Linked DNA regions of Homo sapiens: region 2 is linked to region 1. The links come from fine-mapping of genetic effects on gene expression. A gene starts in region 1. The other region holds a variant in brackets. All regions are shown on one strand. Distances are from middle to middle. Region 1 holds the start of PLRG1 (pleiotropic regulator 1). Region 2 overlaps FGB (fibrinogen beta chain).

Evidence for each region. PIP is the estimated chance that this variant, and not a neighbour inherited with it, causes the effect. A credible set is the group of variants that fine-mapping cannot tell apart.
Region 2: its variant is the best candidate, but not a certain one, in a credible set for the expression of PLRG1 in skeletal muscle (GTEx, PIP 0.69).

What each region holds. Positions count from the first base shown.
Region 1 is chr4:154,548,467-154,552,872 of GRCh38, forward strand. PLRG1 (pleiotropic regulator 1) reads right to left here and starts at 1,934. Exons shown (of 15, transcript NM_002669.4): 1 at 1,834-1,934; 2 at 363-469. The coding sequence starts at 1,842. RefSeq lists enhancers at 2,038-2,087, 2,108-2,267, 3,651-3,945.
Region 2 is chr4:154,570,439-154,574,844 of GRCh38, forward strand. FGB (fibrinogen beta chain) reads left to right here. Exons shown (of 8, transcript NM_005141.5): 8 at 1-2,369. The coding sequence ends at 212. Among named protein-coding and RNA genes, the nearest start is that of FGB, 9.6 kb to the left of the region's middle. The variant C/T (reference allele first, on the strand shown) is at 2,618.

The sequences.
Region 1 (4,406 bases):
ATCATACTAACGAGAAAAGATGGGAGTAGAGGTACTAGCCAGGTACAATTTCAGCTCAGCAAGGCTCTGAGAGCAGCGGGAAGCTGAAAGCACATACAAAGTGATTGATTATAAAATAAAATACCTAAAAGGGACTCTCTTAATTACTGGGTATTTGTAAAATGCAATTAATTAATGGAACTTTTACTGTAAAAGGCCAAAAAAAAAAGTTAAATCAGCTTAAATTATGCCAAAACACCACTCATTATTGAATAATTAGCCCATGACTAGCTTATCTTTAAAGGACTCCCTCTCCCTGCTCTCTTCCCCTAGTATTAGAATGTTAAGTATTTTAGCAATTGAAAAAAAAAAACTACACCAACCTCTCTTCATCTAAAGGCACAGGTTTTCCATTATCAGCTACAAACATGTCATGGGTCCTCTTCAACGACCTGAACACAAGGGTGTGTACAGAATGTTTCTGTACCTCCTAAAAAAAAAGAATGTAATTACACACCTATCTACAAATTACACAAATCATAACCTAAAGTCAGATTGATTATACACTTCACGTGTTTAAATATGTAAAAAGCTTTATACCACTCACCATAGCTACTTGTTGCAAGCTACAGGAGTCAAGTTCAGAGAAGAGGAGGAAGCTCCTCTTTGGCTAGAACCTCAGGTTTAGCAACTGAGTGATGCCGGAGTTTAACTTACTCAATAAATATTTACTGAGCTCCTACTGTGTGTCTGGCAGGTATTGTGCTAGAATCTCACAATAGAATGATAAAAAGGTGGTCATGGTCCCTGTGCTCAAGAGGAAACAGACAAATAAAAAGTAAAATAATTCCACATTTTGATAAGTGCTATGAAGGCAACAAGCAAGGCGCTGAGTCAGGGAATGAAGGACTAAGTATAATTGTGAAAGATTTCACTAAGGTGATATTTAAGCAGAAAGGGAGTTAGCCTTGCACAAAACAGAGGTAAGAACGAACCAGGCTGATGGAAATGTCATGTAAAAAAAAGTTCAGTTAACTGAAATAATACAAGGAGCGCAGTACAGCTGTGTATGGAGGATGAGATGGTGCTTTGTAGCTGCAAGGGTAGACAAGGTCCAGATTAGGTAAGGTCTTTTAGACTATTACAACAGCCTATATTTTGTTCTAGCAACATAGGGTCAGTAAAGGGTTTTAAACAAGAAAGGTATGAACAACTTACGTTTTAAACAGAACAACTTATAGAACAAAATGGAAGCAAGGAAACCAACCAACGGGGAGCTAATGCACCAGTCCAGGTGAAAGATGATGTTGGTCTCAATTAAGGTGGACTGCAGCGGATATGGAGAAGAGTGAATGGAATCAATAAACATGTGGGGTAAGATGGACAAGACCAGCTAACAGCGTTGGCTGTTCATGCCAGGGAAAGATGTAAAGAACGGCAAGTTTTTCTGGGGGTAGAGGTGAAATAAGAGACGACCTGAACGCAAGATAGAGAAGACTACCAATCTTTTAGGGCACAGACTCACTGACACTGCCCCGAGGGCGGCAAGTACCAGTGGTCGATCACCAACAGAGGCCCCGCCTCCGAGGACACTTTCCAGCTCCCAAGAGTCAAACGAGGACTGGACGAATTATCTCAGGCTTCGCGCCCAGGCTGAACCTCCGACTCGGGTTCTCATCCGGCTTCTACCCCTTCCCCGAAAACCCGAAGAAGAGACCACTCGGCCTTGGCCAAATAGCTCCCCTCGTAGCCTCTTTTCTCTCTGGACTCCAAGTACTCTCAATCCCCCACGCGCACTGCCAAAAAAAACAGTCCAGAGACAAACGACTCTTGAGAGCCCCAGTGTCACTTTACCTCGACCATGATGCTACCGTGTATCCCACCTCCGGCAGGGAAGAAACTCTAATCACTAACGCAGTACCCGCCGCCACAGCTGTGCAGCACCTTCCGGAATTGGGCGCCCAGGCGGCGGATGTGATGCAAGCTCTGCGCACGCGCGCTAGTCTCCCTCGGCCATCTAGGATCAGGAGGCGGGTCTCCCTCCTCGGGACCGCCTCTAGGGCGGAGTCTCGAGGCTGAAAGCCGGAGACTCCTGGAAGGGCCTGGGTGGAGGGTTTCACTCGTCCCTCTGAAGAAATCTTAGAATTATGTTTTCTGCCTTAGTTGGGGTCCTGGTTGTTCGTGCTGTATTCCCCGGAAGCTTAACGCTTTTTATTCAGAGAACCTAAGCGTCTGGAGAGCAAACTCCCGTGGGCTCTATCTAAGGCATTTCCACTACCTTGATCTCTTTGGAGGTCGCCTGCGTGCTTTGTGTCTCCTGGTTCTAATCCTGGCGAGAAGCACTTGGACACTTGTAGGCTTAACACCTGAAAACAATTTCGCTTAAACAGTCCAGTAAACACTTGTTAAGTGAACGTTGAGGAATAGCTGTTTTAATTTGGAAAATTTTGACATGTAGTTATAACAAAACCCCATATTTATTTTCTGCTAATAGATTTTTTTTTTTAATTTCTCAAAACTGCATAGCTCTTGTCCATTTCCTAGTTGCCTGCTGATTATTGTGGCTTCAACAATGCCAGGGTACAGCTTTTCAAAGCTGGTAGAAGACACAATTGGAGACTTTAGCCATTTTTATTTATACATATCCTTGTGCCAAGTATTGGTATTTTTGCTTTCTACCCTGGTAAAATCTGTGGTTTGTGATCAACCCTACCCAATTATTTTTCTATGTAAAAAAAAAAATGGATGGACTTAGGCATTTACAAACTTAAATAGACAAACATTTTACTGGCCCTGTTTCAGTTTCACTAATCCTGTCCTGAGAGCATACTGCTTACACTTTGAGAGGGGGAAAAAATCTAGCAAAAGAATAGCAATATAAATCAACCTTACTTGGAAATTCATTAAAAACATTAAGGTCATGGGTTTTTGTTTGAGACAGAGTTTCGCTCTTGTCGCCCAGGCTGGAGTGCCATGGCGCGATCTTGGCTCACTGCAACCTCAGCATCCCAGGTTCAAGCTATTCTCCTGCCTCAGCCTCTGGAGTAGCTGGGATTACAGGCGCCCGCCACCATGCCCGGCTAATTTTTGTATTTTTAGTAGAGACAGCGTTTCACCATGTTGGCCAGGCTGGTCTTGAACTCCTGACCTCAGGTGATCCGCCCGCCTCGGCCTCCCAAAGTGCTAGGATTACAGGCATGAGCCACTGAGCCCTGCCTTAAGGTCATGTTTTTACTTGAAGATACAGCATCTCTGAATTTAACTGTGAGTTTGGCCTAAGAATTGCTTTTCTGTAAAGGTGGCAGGTGATGGTATTTCCTTGCAAGAAAATACCATAATTGTAAAATATATACTTGATGAACTAAATAATATACTCACCTATTAATAATAACTATAGAAAATAACATGATTTGAAATGACAATAAAACCATAGAAACCTAAGCAAGACTAATATATATGGCAATATATTAATTGTCTAGTTGGATCTATTAACTTTTTACATATTTAATCATCCTGGAGACATTAATTTAATTTCTCAATAACAACATGGTAATGATTGAGGTAAATTGCCTCGAATTTGCTCCTTTTAAAACACTGTCGTGAATTTATAGAATGATGTCATCCCCTTGAAAGTTTACAATATTTTAGATAAATATAGAACTCAAGTGACCCTATTATTTAGTTCAGGGATTCATGAATTATGTATATTGTAGGAAAATTTTGTATTTATATGGGAATATGTTTTATTTTCTGGAGAAAGGATCCACAAGTTTAATTGGATTCCTGAAAGGCTCCGTCATACACACATGGCCTGGCTGACACCCGAAGCTGCCTTATTTGAACAGCAGGTGTCACCACTGCTCTTTGTACGGGCCCTCAGGGCTGTCCTTAAAGCAGACACGGCAAGTAACTTATTAATATAAATTATTAGTATTATGTCTGTGTAAAACCAAGAATACAAGTTTTAAGGAAAGCCCTCCTTCTTTAGGCAAGATTTTTTAAACTCACCAATACAGAAACTCTTTTTATTCTCCTTCAAATATTGTCCTTTGCTCTTGAACAGTGATAGGTCATATGAGTATAGATTTGAGTGCCATTTTCATCAGCTTTTTATGATATTTTTATAGGAAGTGTTTTCTGATTCTTATAAAATAATAAATATTACTATTTATTTTTCTGTTTCAACTTAGAGGGTTAAATATACAAGCTTTAAAAAACACTATATGCAATGTTCTTTAGAGTTGTGTGGCTCAGTATGTCCATCCCTTAAATTTCATATTTGAAATTGTTCGTTAATTCAAAAGGAAGTAATCATGGGAGTTATCACTGTTTATTTGAATTTCTGAGGTCAAAACCTGTGAAAAATGATACTTGGACATTTCTTCCAAAACTTTGGTCTTTAATTGTTTAGCACAATGCTATGAATT
Region 2 (4,406 bases), 22 kb after region 1:
AACAGTGTTCTAAAGAAGACGGTGGTGGATGGTGGTATAATAGATGTCATGCAGCCAATCCAAACGGCAGATACTACTGGGGTGGACAGTACACCTGGGACATGGCAAAGCATGGCACAGATGATGGTGTAGTATGGATGAATTGGAAGGGGTCATGGTACTCAATGAGGAAGATGAGTATGAAGATCAGGCCCTTCTTCCCACAGCAATAGTCCCCAATACGTAGATTTTTGCTCTTCTGTATGTGACAACATTTTTGTACATTATGTTATTGGAATTTTCTTTCATACATTATATTCCTCTAAAACTCTCAAGCAGACGTGAGTGTGACTTTTTGAAAAAAGTATAGGATAAATTACATTAAAATAGCACATGATTTTCTTTTGTTTTCTTCATTTCTCTTGCTCACCAAGAAGTAACAAAAGTATAGTTTTGACAGAGTTGGTGTTCATAATTTCAGTTCTAGTTGATTGCGAGAATTTTCAAATAAGGAAGAGGGGTCTTTTATCCTTGTCGTAGGAAAACCATGACGGAAAGGAAAAACTGATGTTTAAAAGTCCACTTTTAAAACTATATTTATTTATGTAGGATCTGTCAAAGAAAACTTCCAAAAAGATTTATTAATTAAACCAGACTCTGTTGCAATAAGTTAATGTTTTCTTGTTTTGTAATCCACACATTCAATGAGTTAGGCTTTGCACTTGTAAGGAAGGAGAAGCGTTCACAACCTCAAATAGCTAATAAACCGGTCTTGAATATTTGAAGATTTAAAATCTGACTCTAGGACGGGCACGGTGGCTCACGACTATAATCCCAACACTTTGGGAGGCTGAGGCGGGCGGTCACAAGGTCAGGAGTTCAAGACCAGCCTGACCAATATGGTGAAACCCCATCTCTACTAAAAATACAAAAATTAGCCAGGCGTGGTGGCAGGTGCCTGTAGTCCCAGCTACCTGTGAGGTGGAGATTGCATTGAGCCAAGATCTCAACACTGCACTCCAGCCTGGGCAACAGCGTGAGACTCCACCTCAAAAAAAAAAAAAAAAGAATCTGACTATATACCATGGAAAAGCCACCACTCTGCCACTTAAATAAACATCAGGATCAGAGATTCCAAGAGGACAATCTGCATCAAGTCTTCACCAAGTGTTTTTTAAGCGAAATAATGAAATAGGGAGCAGAATATGCCTGTTGCCCATAGAAACGAGGTCTATTCTTGTCCTCAATTAGGCTTTTTTTTCTTCATAGTTACACCAGAACTAAAGTAAAAGTGGTTTTTCTGTTCTTTCTACTTCTCCCCATGAAATGGGCATATCATCTCAACACTTCACTCCAAGTCGCCACGGGCAACCTTATGACCCTAGGTCCTCCACCCCTAATGTATCATCATTGCCACCCATTTTTATGGTACTTATTGTTCTTAAGCTTATCCTCTTAATCTTTTCATGTAAGCAAAGCTCATTAATTTCTGTCTTGGAAATGCTACTACTCTCTTTAATTACTCACCAAATCCAACTTTAACTTTTGACCTGGTTTCTCTGCCACAAGTTCTGTCCCACTGGAGCCCATACTCACCTACCGCTTTGCCATCACATTTAACAGAAAACTCTTATCAACTTACTTCCTGCTTAACATTAGCTCCTTCCTATCTATATCCAAATTTCTTAAATTCAAATTTTTTAGCTGGAGTAAAAATGGTCCCAGTACCATTTCCTGTTCCCTTCACTATAACCTACATTTTTGTCACATTAAGTTTTTCCCCATTCCAGGACAGGTCAGGCCCTTTAAAAATTTCAACAGCTTTATTGAGATATAATTGATATAATTTAAAAAATCCTGCACATGTGTCATGCTGGAGCCCTATTGATTCCAACAGGGATGGCGCCTTGTCCAAGAAGAGACCCAGAGCCAGTGAATGGGACATAGGGTTTATTTAGGACTTAAATACAGATGTGGTCCAGTGGCAGTGGGCTGGACAGGACCGCTACTATTTGTAAAGAGTATGTAGTTTATATAACATTTCTACTTAGCACTCTCCACTTAGCAACCTCCATTTAACCCAAAATAAAAGGCCTTGGTTCCTTGCACATCCTGAGTTCCAACGGACAGGCAGGGAGTTCAAGTGTCCTTCACAGATAAGAAGTGAATCTCTCTGGGTTGGCCATTCCCGGATTCCTTAGCTTAGACTCTGAACACATATTCTTCTTAGACCATACAGTCATTCTCAGGGTATGCTTGAGTTAATGCTGTCGGATGCATCTGTCATACAAAGTGTTTAACATATACGATTTCATGATTTTGGAAATATGCATACACCCATGATATCACTGGCACAGTCAAGATATTAAATATATCCATCACCTCCAAAAGTTTCCTTGTGTTCATTTATTTTAGTTTTTCATGGTAAGAACATTTAATATGAAATATTATCAACAAATTTTTAAGTGCACAATACTGTATTATTAATTTTAGGCATTATGTTGTACAGTAGATCTCTAGAACATATTCATCTACTAAAAATGAAATTTTATCTCCATTTCCCCCTACCTCCCATCCCCTGGCAACTACCATTCTATTTTCCACTTTGACTGTTTCAGATACCTCATATAAGTGAAAT[C/T]ACACAGTATCCTTTCGCACTGTTGTGGGGATGTAAAACGGTGCAGCTACCATGGGAAGAAATGTGGAGGCCCCTAAAAAATTTTTTAAAAAATTCTGATTATCATATGATCCAGCAATCTCACTTTTAGGCATATATCCAAAAGAACTGATATCAGGATCTGGAAGCAATATTTGTGCATCTGTGGTCATTGCAACATTATTCACAATGTTCAGGTCCTTTTATATGATGCCCTCATTGCAGCAATGTCTTCCTCCCAACACCATCTGACAAACTGCTATTTGTTTTTAAACCTCACTTTAACTGTCACCGCCCAGAGAAGACTTTCTAAAACCTTTGGGCAAATTTTATTACTTTTTGACAATGAATGCCTGAGGCTTATCCAGCTTTGATTCCAGAAACATCAGCCTGTCAGAATGGCTAATTTTCATGCATTTGTGAATGCTGGATGGCTAAATCCAGTGATTTTCAAAGTCTCGAACATCCTCTTTTTAAATGTAGAACCCATTTTCCAATAAAGCCACAAACAGAAACTCAACATGCAAAGTTCTTGAATATGGAACTTTTGGGGCAATACTGAGAGTCGCAAAAGTTCACTGAATGAAAAATGCGGGTTGGGAAGACTGCAGTCATCAGACCTTTGCTCACTCCTTACGTGTTCACAGAGGATCAAATGAATCCCTAGAGCTTGAAGTAATGCCATAGAAGAAAAACCACTAAAGTAGATAATCTGATGGTCAATTCTTAGTTAATGTACAAATAGAAAAAACACAGAGACCACTCCCAGGTAATATGTAAGTCTATCTAGAAAGAAATGCACTTTCTTGGCTGGGCACAGTGGCTCCCATCTGCAAACCCAGCACTTTGCTGGGATGAGGTGGGAAGATTGCTTCAGACCAGGAGTTAGAGGCCAGCTTGGCAACATAGTGAGACCCTGGCTCTACTATAAAACTTGTAAAAACAAACGAAAATACAGTAACGAAAAAAGAAATGCACTTTCTTAAGGTGTCATTTGGTAAGAAATGTTATGTGTCTGATTTTGCCCATGCACAATTTTGAATATAATAAAAAAGGTAGCTTCCCCTATTTAGAATATATAAAACAGTAACAACAAGATTGTATAACTCATGATTTTAAGATGATAATAGAAAGATTAGTTGAAAGTTTTTAATCCCACACTGTGGTATGAGAACTATTTTATTTATATATATATATACATATATATATATACACATATATAATTATATATATGTATATATAATTATACAATTAGGACTGAAAGTCTGCAACAAACTATAATGGATGTATGCACTTGGGACATAAGCTTCTAGTTCCTCTTTATTTATGAACCAAGAGAAACAGCTAACTCAGGGATTGTTTTTAAACTGACTACAGATTCCCACCATGGGGCAAAAATATGGGTGACATGACACATCACCAGCTGCAGTAGCTCAGCTCACATTTCTGTTTAAGCATTACACACATAATATCCTGTATGCTGATCATTTAAACTTACTGACGCTTGTAATCCCAGCACTTTGGGAGGCCGAGGGGGGTGAATCATGAGGTCAGGAAATTGAGACCATCCTGGACAACATGGTGAAATCGAAACAGTGTCTCTACTAAAAATACAAAAATTAGCTGGGTGTGGTGGTGTGCACCTGTAATCCCAGCTACTCGGGAGGCTGAGGCAGGAGAATCACTTGAACCCGGGAGGCAGAGGTTACAGTGAGCTGAGATCACGCCACTGCACTCCAGCCTGGGCATAAGACTGAGACTCCAAGTCAAA